Homo sapiens: one gene and its partner. The protein of the gene in region 2 purifies or fractionates together with the protein of the main gene of each other region. This does not show direct contact. Each region holds a gene or a part of one and is shown on either strand. Other genes may lie near its edges.

Region 1 (3,500 bases), on a different chromosome or scaffold from region 2:
GAAGACTTTTACAAATGAAATTGGATTTCACTTTCTTCTCTGTGCTCAAAGAAACAAATGTATTTAACCAACTGTCCTTTAAAAAGGTCAAACTAGTTTGTACTTCTACTAACAGCATCATTCACTTCCTTTGAAATAAAATACATTTCCTTATCCTCTCCTAAATTCTTGAGATTTCCTGCTTGCCTCACGGTCTTTATTCAGTGCCTCACAGGTAACACTCACAGACCTGGGTTCAAATTCTATGACTGAGTAACCTTAATGGCTTTAATCAGTTTCCTTGCCTGTAAAATGGGAATAATAATAATAGTTCTTGCTTCATAGGATGGTTGTAAGATTAAATGAGATATTGAATGTAAATCTAGCAGGGTGCCTAGCATGTAGGAAGCACTCGAAAGAATGATGAACATACTAGCTTTTAAAAATATTGAAGTATATATATATATATAATACTTACCATTTTAACCATTTTTAAGTATACAGCTCAGTAGTTTAAGTGTATTCATAGTGTGATGCAACCATTACCATCACCCATCTCCAGAACGCTTTTCATCTTGCAAAACTGAAACTCCATATCCATTAAACACTAACTTTCCCTCACCAGTCCCTGGGAACACCATTCTACTTTCTGTCTCTATGAATTTGACTACGCTAGGTATCTCAAAGAAGTAGAAACATACAGTATTTGTCCTTTTATGACAGGCTTATTCCACTTTCAGGTTCATTATTAGCTTTTTTTTTTTTTTCTTTTTTTTGGAGCCAAGGTCTCACTCTGTTGCCCATGGCTGGAGTGCAGTGGTATGATCATGGTTTACTTGACCTCCAGGGCTCAAGCAATCCTCCCTAAAGCTAAAGTGTTATATTGCAGTGGGACATTTCTTCTAGTAACTATTAACATATTTTCAGAGAATTTAAAAAAATGTTGTCCATACCTGACATCCATTCACAATGGACTGAAAACCAGAACCACAGAGCCTATTAATCGTGAGAGCTGGGGTCTCCTTTGGGATTCCCACACGCAAACCAACATGCCTTGCCAAATATATAGCATCTGAAGAACTCTAGAAGAGAGAAGGAAAAGAAAAATAATTTTCTCTATAAATCTACTAATTAAGAACAAGCACGAAATACATGGAAATGTTGGCAATCTATCAAAAATGATAAACTATATGGCTCTAAGGTAGGACAAAATGCATCTAAGTACAGCATATTATATCTAATATGTGTTTACAATTTGAATAAAAACTACAGTCAATTGGGTTTTTTTCTATTTTTTTATTGGGGCAAAATACACATAACAAAATGTATCATTGTAACCATTTTTAAGTGTATAGTTCAATGGTATTATTTAAATACATTCATAATGTTGTGTAACCACAGTCAATTGGTTTTCAAATATATTAAAGATAATTGCTACTTAGAGAAATCCCATTAAGTCCTTAATATAAGACAGAAATTTATAACAATTAGAGTTATTTAAAAATGGAATACGCTATCCTAAAGTAGTATGCTCCTTAACAGAGGAAGTATCGGAGGCTGTGGTTCTCAACCTTGGTTGCAGGCTGGAATAACCTAGGAAGCTTTATTAACATACTCATGCTTAAGTTCCTAAGCAAATCAATTAAACCAGAAAGGCTGGAGGTGGGGCCTGGGCATCAGTAGTCACTTTTAAAAAGCATCCCAAGTAATTCTAATGTAAAACAGGCTGAGGACTGCATACTTAGGGAGAAGACAGATGAATGATTGGTCAGGAGAGTAAGAGGTAGGAGTAGACCACCACTCCCAAAACTTTAAAATGCATATGGGGGCGTCTTGTTATAATAAAATGTAAGTTCTGAATCAACAGGTCTAGGTCTGCCGGAGATTCTGCATTTCTAACCATTTCCCTGGTGAAGCTGATGTTGCTAGTCCAAGAACCACACTTTGAATAAAAAGAATGACTTAAAAAAAAAAAACCAACAACAACCAAAAACATTAACAGCCTGTTTTGGAGGCTGTTAGCAAGAGCAAAAGCAAGTTTGACAAAATGTAAAACATTGGTCTATCAAGGTACGGGGTTTTAGGATGTTCATTGTACTATTCTTTTAACTTTTGTGTAGGTTTCAAGTTTTTCAAAACTTGACAAATTCGGCACATTTATAAGTTAAGGGTTTTGAATGCAGATGGAACTGGGAGGAACTCAGTATAACATCAATTAATCTACTAACTAAATGTTTCATCTGTTGACTGAGATGAAATTATCTTATTTTACAAATTAATGTCATTAAAAAAATTCTTGGCCAATGGATATTCTTTTGCCAAGGTTTGTCAAATATCACATATCAACAGAATAAAAAAAATTTACACGATCATCTCGTGTAAATTATTAACAGATAAATATTTGGGGTTAGGCCTTTATGGTTAAGAGAGAACAGAATATGCTTCGAATAACATTTGACAAATACCACAAAGCTGCTTTTCTAATTGAGTTTAATATTATTAAATATCACTTGGAATAAATGAGTTTTACTTATTTCTTAGGAAACAATGAAATCCAATGTGGATTTCAACACAAAAAGTCAACAGAAAAAGTATTTGACAAAATACAACACCCTTTCATGACAAAAACACTGAACAAACTAGGAACAGATGGCAACTTTCTCAATCTGACAAAGGGAATCTATAAAAAATCCACAGCTCTCCCTCTCCCCCTCCTCCTCCCCCTCTCCCCACGGTCTCCCTCTGATGCCTAGCTGAAGCTGGACTGTACTGCTGCCATCTCGGCTCACTGCAACCTCCCTGCCTGATTCTCCTGCCTCAGCCTGCTGAGTGCCTGCGATTGCAGGCACGCGCCGCCACGCCTGACTGGTTTTCGTATTTTTTTGGTGGAGACGGGGTTTCGCTGTGTTGGCCTGGCTGGTCTCCAGCTCCTAACCGCGAGTGATCCGCCAGCCTCGGCCTCCCGGGGTGCTGGGATTGCGGACGGAGTCTTGTTCACTCAGTGCTCAATAGTGCCCAGGCTGGAGTGCAGTGGCGTGATCTCTGCTCGCTACAACCTCCACCTCCCAGCCGCCTGCCTTGGCCTCCCAAAGTGCCGAGATTGCAGCCTCTGCCCGGCTGCCACCCCGTCTGGGAAGTGAGGAGCGTCTCTGCCTGGCCACCCATCGTCTGGGATGTGGGGAGCCCCTCTGCCTGGCTGCCCAGTCTGGAAAGTGAGGAGCGTCTCTGCCTGGCCGCCATCCCATCTAGGAAGTGAGGGGCGCCTCTTCCCAGCCGCCATCCCGTCTAGGAGGTGAGGAGCGTCTCTGCCCGGCCGCCCATCATCTGGGATGTGGGGAGCGCCTCTGCCCGGCCGCGACCCCATCTGGGAGGTGAGGAGCGTCTCTGCCCGGCTGCCCCATCTGAGAAGTGAGGAGACCCTCTGCCCGGCAACCGCCCCGTCTAAGTGAGGAGCCCCTCCGCCCGGCAGCCACCCCATCTGAGAAGTGAGGAGCCCCTCCGCCTGGCAGCCACCCTGTCTG
Region 2 (3,500 bases):
AGGAGGAGCTGTGAGAGGCCAGTGGCAGTGACCCGGTCTCTGTTCTTGAAAACTGACAGATACTCCTGTCTATGTCTGGAGCTAATGGGCAAAGTCTTAGTGTCATAGTTGGGTAGCCAGGCATCCCAGGCCTGAGGTGTGGAGGGTTGTAGATGGCGGACAGGGTGGACAGGTGAAGGGGATGCTGGTCCTGATTCCCTGTGCCTTAGTGGGGCTGAGGGCACAGAGGGAAGTAGCGAAATCTAGCTGTGAACTTGGTCACTCTCCTGAGCCTGTTTCTTGGTTGTTGTTAAATGGCTTTCTTGGTTGTTGTTGTTGTTAAATGGCAGGAATGATGAGATATGCATGTTGCGGGGACTTAGTAGGAATTACGATGCTGGGAAAGCCAGGATCCTTTGAAAAGAACCAGCGCTGCCCTCTTGTGATGTTGTCATTCACTTACTCATCAAGTAATTGTGGAGCACCTAACAAGTGCCAGGTGCTGCAGGAGGTGAGGAGGTGGTGCAGTGAACAGGACCCAGCAGTCCCCACCCAAGTGGAACGTTGAGGTCCTGAGTTCAGACTCCCTGTCCCTGGCCACTGTTGAGGTTGCCACATGGACTGAGAGGGAGAGGCAGGGCGGGAGGAGGCCGTGCAGCTAGCACCAGGCCACCCTTCTGCTCTTCTCCCCACAGACTGAACCGGCCGCTGACACTCTCGGAGAAGATTGTGTATGGACACCTGGATGACCCCGCCAGCCAGGAAATTGAGCGAGGCAAGTCGTACCTGCGGCTGCGGCCGGACCGTGTGGCCATGCAGGATGCGACGGCCCAGATGGCCATGCTCCAGTTCATCAGCAGCGGGCTGTCCAAGGTGGCTGTGCCATCCACCATCCACTGTGACCATCTGATTGAAGCCCAGGTTGGGGGCGAGAAAGACCTGCGCCGGGCCAAGGTGAGCAGAAGGTGGCTTTGGGGGTGGGCAAGTGGGCAAGACTGGGCGAGAGGCCTCACCCTCACACTGGAGCAAACCAGGGCATTGCCTCCAAATTCTCACACCTCTTTGGATTGGTCTGCTTTTAAAACTTGATTTTACTTGTTTCTCTTTCTAAAAATAGCACTTGCTCATTATGTTAAAAAATACAGAGGAAGCCTAAAGAAAGAAAAAATCATCCTTGACCTTACCACACTGCAGGTCCTTTTTCTGTCCTGTTGGAGGATGATGTGGATCCTGCCAGGTGCTCTGGAAGGGGCCATGCAGGCCTCCCTGTCTGCCTGAGCAGTGAGGGGTGCATCTTAGCATAGTTTGCCAGCATCCCATTTGCACCCACTCCCGCTCTCCTCTGACCCTCCAAGGACCCTCTCCGGGAGGTAGGCGTGCTAGGGTCACTATTTGTAAATTTGAGGCGGCAGTGGCATCATACTTGAGTTCTGTAACTACATGAGGGCACGATTAGGGCTCAATGCTGATCCTGGCTCCCACTCTGGTGCTCTGTCACTGAGGAGCCTCCTTTGGGGGCCATTCTTCTGTGAGTTTTGCTTAACTACATGGGGGTGGCTGTATGCCATGCTGAAGGCTTTTCCCCCACCCTTCTATGAAATCGAGTTCCTGCTCCTTCTCCCAGGCTCGGCTTGTGGGACCTTTGTGTCAGCCTGCTCTTGGCAACAGCGGGCCTCTCTCTCCCAGCTCTGGGCCTCCCCACTCTCCAGCCCCTGCAGTGGGAGTGGGTCCCCCTCACGGGGAGGGGCGTTGGCAGGAGCTGAATGCTGGCAGGGCTGCGGCCTGTGGGCATGTGATTGAAAGTGCTCCAGCTCCCAGGGTCAGCATGGCTCAAAGCCTCCCAGCCCCATGGGAAACACTCGGGGCGGCGCTCTCACTCAGACCCTCTCTTCCACCCTGGCCCCCTGGTGGTATCCTGGCTCCACAGTGGCTCTTTCCCCTCAGCTGAAAGGACAGTCCTGCCTGCCGGCCGGCGGTTTCCACATTAGCAACAACACTGGTGGGGGTAATAATGTTACAGGAGCTCCCACAGTGCCGGGAACTGCACATGGCCGGGAACGTGGGTCCTCTGCAGCCCTGGGGACAGCTGCCCACAACAGGGCTGCTACCTTCTGGGGCTGGCTTTCTGCTTGCTTTATGGGCTCAGAGTGAATCTTCTGGAGATGAGATGCACACTCATAGCATTCAGAGCTCATTCCCTCATGCGTTCAACAAATTGAACATTCTTTATGTGCCAGGCACTGGGCTAGGTACTGAGGTTCAGTGTGAACAAGTCAGGCAGGGGCCCTGCCTTCAGGGATCTGCTTGTGGGTGTGGACACTAAACAATGGCCGAGGTAGGTAACTGCAGATCTGGGTATGTGTTAGGAAGGGAAAGTGCGGGACTTGGTCAGTATAAAAAAGAGGTCTAATTTAGATGCTGGGGGAAAGAGAGAGCTTCTTTGAGGATGTGACAGATAACCTGAGGACTGAACATATGAGTTGCATTGACTGGAGGAAGAACATGCTAGAAAGAACAGCATTTGCAAAGACCCTGAGCCAGGAAGAAACTTGATGCTTTTGTGGAAGTGAGAGGGGGCCTGTACTGCTGGAGTTCTCTGTGTTTGGAAGAGCGGGTGGTATGAGGTGGGCAGGGGCAGCCAGGAACGCGAGGGCTGTGGGAACGCTATGGTCACCATCCTCAGAGTCCTAGAACAGTTTAAGCGGAGAAAGAATATGGTCTTTTTTTTTTTTTTTTTTTTGAGACAGAGTCTTGCTCTATCCCCCAGGCTGGAGTGCAGTGACACACAATCTCGGCTCACTGCAATCTCGGCTCACTGCAACCTCCGCCTCCTGGGTTCAAGCGATTCTCATGCCTCAGCCTCCCGAGTAGCTGGGATTACAGGCACCCACCACCATACCTGGCTAATTTTTGTATTTTTACTAGAGACAGGGTTTCACCACGTTGGCCAGGCTGGTTTCAAACTCCTGACCTCAGGTGATCCACCCACCTCGGCCTCCCAAAGTGCTGGGATTATAGGTGTGAGCCACCACGCCCGGCCTAGAATGTGGTCATTATTACGTGTATTTGTAAAGTGTCCCTCTGGCTAGGGCTCAGAGGCAGTGACCTGTCTAGGGTCACAGAACCAGAGATGGATCCAGGCTGAGTCCAGGCCGAGACTCTGGCACCAGTCTGGGGTCCTCCCACACCCCTTCCTCACACTTAACACAGACGTGTAGTCACATGCGCCCAGACACGACCACAGCCTCCTGTCCTGGATACCAATTTCATAAGTGACCGATTTGTAAATGAAAAAGCTGATGTATTAATTATTAATTGGAAAGAGACTGCTCTGGAAACCCACGTTCTTTGCCATTCTCTTACCTGGGGGAACCCAGTGGGCCTTCAGAGGGCACACACTGGTCTGGAGTTTCAGTGAAGGGGTGTGTGGTTTGAGTGTATCTCATCAAGGGTCCGAGGGCACTGGCTGAGGTCCCTTCTCTGAAGCATCGCTCTCCCATGCCGGAGGCTGGCAGGTCCCA

Evidence for each region.
Region 1: the proteins of ACO2 (region 2) and ACAA2 fractionate together in Homo sapiens (co-fractionation; one large-scale study listed by BioGRID). This does not show direct contact.

The regions. Positions count from the first base shown.
Region 1 is NC_000018.10:49,796,534-49,800,033, forward strand, and holds part of ACAA2 (3-ketoacyl-CoA thiolase, mitochondrial), read right to left. Parts: intron 1,062-3,500; coding exon 933-1,061; intron 1-932. UniProt on the Homo sapiens protein: In the production of energy from fats, this is one of the enzymes that catalyzes the last step of the mitochondrial beta-oxidation pathway, an aerobic process breaking down fatty acids into acetyl-CoA.
Region 2 is NC_000022.11:41,507,117-41,510,616, forward strand, and holds part of ACO2 (aconitate hydratase, mitochondrial precursor), read left to right. Parts: intron 1-674; coding exon 675-933; intron 934-3,500. UniProt on the Homo sapiens protein: Catalyzes the isomerization of citrate to isocitrate via cis-aconitate.